Homo sapiens: one gene and its partner. The protein of the gene in region 1 purifies or fractionates together with the protein of each later gene. This does not show direct contact. Each region holds a gene or a part of one and is shown in the gene's direction. Other genes may lie near its edges.

The links.
Region 2: the proteins of NMNAT2 (region 1) and ALDH3B1 purify together in Homo sapiens (affinity purification with mass spectrometry; one large-scale study listed by BioGRID and IntAct). This does not show direct contact.

The regions. Positions count from the first base shown.
Region 1 is NC_000001.11:183,251,059-183,254,380, reverse strand, and holds part of NMNAT2 (nicotinamide/nicotinic acid mononucleotide adenylyltransferase 2), read left to right. Parts: intron 1-1,637; coding exon 1,638-1,740; 3' UTR 1,741-3,322.
Region 2 is NC_000011.10:68,016,827-68,020,326, forward strand, and holds part of ALDH3B1 (aldehyde dehydrogenase family 3 member B1), read left to right. Parts: intron 1-1,700; coding exon 1,701-1,811; intron 1,812-1,946; coding exon 1,947-2,067; intron 2,068-2,343; coding exon 2,344-2,429; intron 2,430-2,888; coding exon 2,889-2,970; intron 2,971-3,500. UniProt on the Homo sapiens protein: Oxidizes medium and long chain saturated and unsaturated fatty aldehydes generated in the plasma membrane into non-toxic fatty acids. May have a protective role against the cytotoxicity induced by lipid peroxidation.

The DNA.
Region 1 (3,322 bases):
CATAAAAATTGCTAACAGGTGCATAAAAAGATGCGCAACATTACTAATCACCAGGGAAATAAAAATTAAAGGCATTATGAGATTCTACCTCACACCTATTAGAATAGCTATTATCAAAAAGATAAGAGATAACAAATGTCGATGAGGGTGTGGAGAAAGGGAACCCTTGTACACTGTTGGTGGGAATGTAGATTGGTACAACCGTTATAGAAAACAGAATAGAGGTTCCTAAAGAGATTAAAAACGGAACTGTCATATGACCCAGCAATCCCTCTTCTGGGTATATACCCAAAGAAAATGAAATCACCACCTTGTAAAGGTATCTGCATTTCCAAGTTCATTGTAGCATTATTCACAGTAGCCAAGATGTGGAAACAACCTAGACGTCCATCAATGGATGAATAGATAAAGAAAATGTGTTCTTACACACACACATACACACACACACACACACACACACACACACACACACACACGGAAGTGGAACATTATTCGACTTAAAAAAGGAGATCCTACCACTTGCCACAACTTGGCTAGACCTGGAAGACATTCTGCCAAGTGACATAAGCCAGACACAGAAATAAAAATATTGCATGATTTCACTTATATGTGGAATCTTAAATACACAGATAGAGAATAAAACAATGATTACCAGGGTCAAGTGTGGAGGGCTGAAAGTGGGGAGATATAGATCAAAGGATACAAAGCAGCAAATATGTAGGAATATATATGGAATCTTAAACATACAGATAGAGAATAAAACATGATTACCAGGGTCAAGTGTGGAGGGCAGAAAGTGGTGAGATACAGGTCAAAGGATACAAAGTAGCAAATATGTAGGACAAACAAGTTGAAAGATCTAATGTGTGACATGAGGATGACAGCTAATAATAGTGTATTATATTTAGGGTTTTTGCTAAATTAGTAGATTATAGCTATTCTCGCCACAAGAAGAACAAATACATATCTGAGTGAGATGATGGATATATGAATATTAATTTGGTCCACTACAGTAACCATTAAACTATATTATATAAATAATATAATATTAACACTTATATAAATAATATAATATAATATAATATTAACACTATTATATAAATAATATAATATAGTATAATATATAAATTATAAAATATATAATAAATATGTAATATAACATAGATATACTATATTATATGATGATAATATATGTGTATCTTACAACATCAGATTGTATGACTTAAATATACACAATACAATTTATTTGAGAAAAAAGAATAGTGAATACATTAGATGCCCACTGTGTGTCTGGCACTCTTCTAAGTGCTTTGCATAATGACTCATTTAATCCTTTGAATAACTAAATGAGAGGGGCCCAGATATTACCCTCATTTTACAGGAAAAAAACTGAAGAACAGAGGGGCTTAAATAACTTTCCCAAGGCCTCTCACCTAGGAAGTGGCAGAACCACGATGAATGATGTCACCAAGGTGGGGAAGGAGTTGTGGAGGCAAGAGGGCCTTTCCTAATACAGAACTATTTACTCAACCTGAGAAAAGGCTACAAATGGGGTGCTGGGGAGACAGGGGCATGCCAGTCCTCCTGACTTGCTTTGGGTGTGGATGTCCATCTGATTGTCATCTCTTCTTGTGCAGGCTGGCCCTGCAGCATGGGGACGGCCATGTTGTGGATTACCTGTCCCAGCCGGTCATCGACTACATCCTCAAAAGCCAGCTGTACATCAATGCCTCCGGCTAGCAGCCCCTCGTCCTCCGGCAACACAATGGCCCCTCCATCTTTGTCAGCCCCCTGTTTCTCTCCTGCCTCTCTGTTTCTCCATCTCCTCGTCTTGACTGTTTTCCCTACTTGCTGACTTAACCCCCCATAGTGTGGGGGACCTGCAGAGAACCATGGCATTCCCTATTCCACAGTCATCTTTGGACAGACTTTCCTCTAGTCTCCGGGTTGGGGGTGGGTGAGGGAATGGGGTGGGAGTCGGGGGAAGTGCAGTCCTTGGAGATGTACTGGTGTCCGTCTCCCAGCATGCTCTAGAGAGGCGGCTCTGGTGCCCATCCTCCCAGCACGCTCTGGGGAGGCGGCTCTGGTGCCCATCCTCCCAGCATGCTCTAGAGAGGCGGCTCTGGTGCCCCTCCTCCCAGCATGCTCTGGGGAGGCGGCTCTGGCTCTTGCCTTCCCAGCATGCCCTTTACTACAAAGGGCTATTTTTCTTTTCTTTCTTTTGTTTATTTATTTTTCTTTGTTCACTCCCTGTAGAACTTGGATGAAATCAGTGTCCATGGTTCTTTATGTTTGTAGTCTTGATGTGCTCCTGTGGTATTACTTCCCCTCTGATAGGACATTGTAGCCAGCCTCAGCACTCAGTGAGTTCATCAGGGCCACACCCAGTAGAGAAGGCCAAGCAACCTCCACTTCTTCAGCACCACACACACGCACACACACACACACGCACACATGCGTGTGCACCCGCGCACGCACATACACACACACATATAGCAGTAGCAGCAGCAGCAGCAGCAGCAGCAACCTTTGATCAGGAGTGAGATTTTCGGGTTCTGAAACCTGGGACACGAGTCTGTGAATAGTCGGTTTTCTCAGAATAATTTGAATCTGTTTTCTTAGTTTCAAATGACCATTTCCCTGATGCTCTGAGCTTATGATCACACAGAGCCAGTCCATCCTCATTTCCTGGTGGCATCTGTTCATTTACCTTTGTGGACTGTAGCTGATGGCACAGTGCGGGTTCCCTACCAGCCAGGGGTTTCCAAGGGACCTTTGGAGGCCATGCTTAGACACATTCCTGTACCTGAGAACAACCACATAGGCAGGACCAGATCCACATCGTGCAGTCGTGTCATAAAAAAACAAAACAAAACAAAAAAACACTAGGAGTCCACTCAACCCTGGAGGTCTTTGCTAATTGGAATTATGTATTGTCTGTTGGGCTGGGAAATGTCTCTTTCATATTGTAAGTCCAGGATGAACTAGGAGAAAGCAATTTGTTGCCCTGATGATAACTGATGATTTTCACCCTCTCTAGCTGAGGTAACTCAGACAGTGCATGAGGTCAGTTTCTTCTTGAGAAGCAGTGCCTTGGTCTTGTTTCTGTGGTTGGTTCTAGCCCCTGCAGAGCCTGGGAGCTGCAGGAACTGTCTGAGAAAATCTCCCTAATAGGGGAGTGGGTTCCCAGAAGGGAGATCTGGGAGGGGTCAGGAGCCACTAAGTTGCTTCACTCCTTTTTTCTCTAATTTTCTACCTTCCTCTCTGTTCCTGCAGACAGTTTTGCCAGCTTTGCTTCTGGTTACTAGGGTCTCATGCGTGT
Region 2 (3,500 bases), on another chromosome or scaffold:
GACTTGACCTGACGTCTGTCTGGTCCCTTTTCTCCCTTCGGCTCTGATTCCACCTCCTGCCTTCCCATCCCAGCTGCAGGAGCGGGGCCCTACAAAGGCAGCAGTAGCCCAGAACATTCAACCTGGTCCCTCCCTCTGGACCTGGTCACCCCCCTGTCCCCACCCTCAGCAGGCAGCATCTGCCCAGCGTCACGTGCACCCTCTCAGTTAACCCTTTGGTGAATCTGGTTGGGCAACCACACCCAGTGGCCCCCAGAAGAGGCTCAGAGAGAGTGTGTTCTTGCCCAAGGGCATGCAGCCAGGAAGAGCAGAGCCAGAGTTTGAACCTGGCTCAAAATAGCCCAGTCTCCCAAAGTCAGGTCCCAGGTGACCTAGGAGGTGTGGCGGGCAGGCCACCAGGCTCATGGGGCCAGAGCACAGGCTGTGGGAAAGTCCGTGTGGAAGGCACCTTCCCCCAGCCTCAGTGGCTAGGAGGTGCCAGTGGGCGTGGCGTCTTCCTCCCTCTTGGGGCTCAGCTGTAGCCCTGGCCTTGCCCCTGGTTCGCTGAGTGACCTCAGGCAGGGCATCTCCTTCTCTGGGCTTCGCTGGTCCTCTGGCCCATCCAGCACCCCACTGGCCCGTCCCCCTCTGCCCTGACCCGGGAGAGCCTGCACCCCATAACCTCAGGCGCTGCCTCAGCCAGGGAGCCAGCCTGGCCCCAGTGTCCCTGACCTGTTCTCCAGCGGCCTGCAGCCTGCTGCCTGGCTGGTCTCTCCTCCCTTGGGGCGCAGAGGGCAGGGAGCACTGGCTAGCCGAGAGCAGGACAATGTCCCTATTGATTCGGGTCTCCTCACTCCTGCTTAGAAGCCTGACAGTGGCCCTGGCCCCTGGGCTGTGGGAACTGACAGCATTTACCTAGGGGTGGCTGTGCCTGTGTCTCCTGTGGACCAATCTCCACCCTGCTCTTTGGGAGACTGAGGTGGGAGGATTGTTTGAGGCCAGGAGTTCAAGACCTACCTAGGCAACACAGCAAGGCACTCTGCAAAAAATCAAAACAAACTTTTTTTGAAATTAAAAAAAAACAAAACCCTAAGTCAGATCCCATCCCTGCTCTTCTCAGGAGTCCTTGCCTGGCTGCCTGGCCCCCTCACCTTGCCCACTCTGCTTCTTGCTAAACAGGAGCAGAGCAAGCGCACAGCCACCTCGGGGCCTTTGCAGCCGCCAGGGCCTCTGCCCAAAGTATGCCGCCTCCCAGTACCCACGACTTGCTTGTTCCTTGACTTCAGGTCACTGCTCCAATGTGACCGCCGCCTGGAGACCTGCACTGACCGCTTTGTAAAAACAGCACACACACACATGCTCATGTGGATGTATACATGTGCACACCTGTGCACGCCCACAGCCACACGCTCCAGCAGTCTCCACCCCCACCCTGCTCCATGATTTCCCTAGCACAGCCACGTCCTAATGGAGCCGTCAGCGTTCTCACTTTCACATGGAACGACTGCCCCCTGCAAGGTCGGCCTCAGGGCCGGTCCCTCTGTTTGGCACAGAGACAGCACCTCACACAGGAAGCACGCACTGAACATGGAGTGAGTGAGTGAACGAATGAATGAAAATGAATGAATGAGTTGTGGAAGCAGGCCCTGCCTGGAGGAGGCTGTGCCCTCCTGCCAACTCTGGGAATCCTGGCCCACCCTGACCCCACCCACTTCCTGCAGTCAGCCTTCGAGTCGGAGGTGTCTGAGGTTGCCATCAGCCAGGGCGAGGTCACCCTGGCCCTCAGGAACCTCCGGGCCTGGATGAAGGACGAGCGTGTGCCCAAGAACCTGGTGAGCCGGCCGGGCTGAGGCGGGCAGGGGGCTCAGGGGATATTTGCTCCCACAGGGTGGCCCCTCTGGGTGGGAGCTGGCTGCTGAGGGGCCGGGGTGCTGAGCACTTAATTTCATCCCCGGCTCCCGGCCCAGGCCACGCAGCTGGACTCCGCCTTCATCCGGAAGGAGCCCTTTGGCCTGGTCCTCATCATTGCGCCCTGGAACTATCCGCTGAACCTGACGCTGGTGCCCCTCGTGGGAGCCCTCGCTGCAGGTGAGAGCTGGGCCTGCCCCTTCCGGTCACCCTTCTCCGCTCGAGGCCTCAGGGCCACCCATGGATCCCAGGAGGACATGGGAGAACTGGCCCAGGTGGCAAAGAGGACTGTCTGGTCCACCGTCCCCGGGCTGTGTGGCCCTGGGCCCGTCATGTTACCTCTCTGAACCAGGTTCTGCATCTGAAAGTGGGTGAGGCTGATGCCTGCCCTGCAGGTGTGTGGAGACCAGGAGCTGGCTACGCCTCCTCCAGCTCTCTCCCTGCACTGCCCTGCAGGGAACTGTGTGGTGCTGAAGCCATCGGAGATTAGCAAGAACGTCGAGAAGATCCTGGCCGAGGTGCTGCCCCAATACGTGGACCAGGTGAGCAGGGCTGCCGGGCAGGTAGAGCGGGAACAGGCAAGGCTCAAGGGCTGGGCAGCCCCTGGCATGGAAGGGCCTGTCAGTCAGACCCGAGTCCCCACCTCAATCCTGCCTCTTCTGAGTTGTGTAAACTTGACCAAGTCACCGCCCCTGTCAGCCTCAGTTTCCCTCTGAGGAGCAGCGAGGGCAGCCTGTTGCCCAGGGGTTCCGTGTCTGCCTCCACCTGGCCCTGGCATCAGCCCCTCCAGCGCCAGCTGGACTCCAAGCTGGGCCTGCCAATGCCAGCCAACCTTGGGGAGCTCCCTTCTCCCCACTTTGCCTCCACCCAACCCTCCTAGAGCCCTGGCTGGGTCAGGCCAGGCGGGGTGGAGGCAGGGCAGGGTCCAGGCAGGGCGGGCTGCTCCCTTGTGTTCTCGGAGCTGGGGTCCCAGAAGGAGCCTCACCCATCCCGCCTTGCAGAGCTGCTTTGCTGTGGTGCTGGGCGGGCCCCAGGAGACGGGGCAGCTGCTAGAGCACAGGTTCGACTACATCTTCTTCACAGGTGAGGCCGGGACGAGGGTCGGGACAGGCTGGGGTCGGGGAGGACAGCTGCTCAGGGGTCCTGTCCCTAACTCTGGGAGTCCACAGGGAGACTGAATTCTCCTCTCTCTCTCTCTCTGGACCAGGCTGGGAGCAGTCCTGGACCCCCAGGACCCCTTAGGAAGGGATGGAGTCCCATGTCCAGGGCCAGCCCACTGTGCCAACCACAGCGTCAGGAACCATAGCCTCTGCCCCCACTGTCCCCAGACCCTCATACGTGACCCTGCTGCCCCCCAGGCTCTTAGACACCACCCTACTGGTGCCCACAGCCCTCTCTGCAGGCAGATGAGGGACTGGGCCTCAGTGTCCTGCCCAGGGTCACCCTGCTGGCCAGGATGGGGACAGGCTGGAATGTGCACACAAGCCCTTGGAGAAATCCACGCCAGAGGTCACTTTTTTTTTCTTTTTTTTTGAGACAGAGTCTTGCTCTGTCACCCAGGCAGTGGCACAATCTTGGCACAATCTTGGCTCACTGCAACCTCTGCGCCTCCT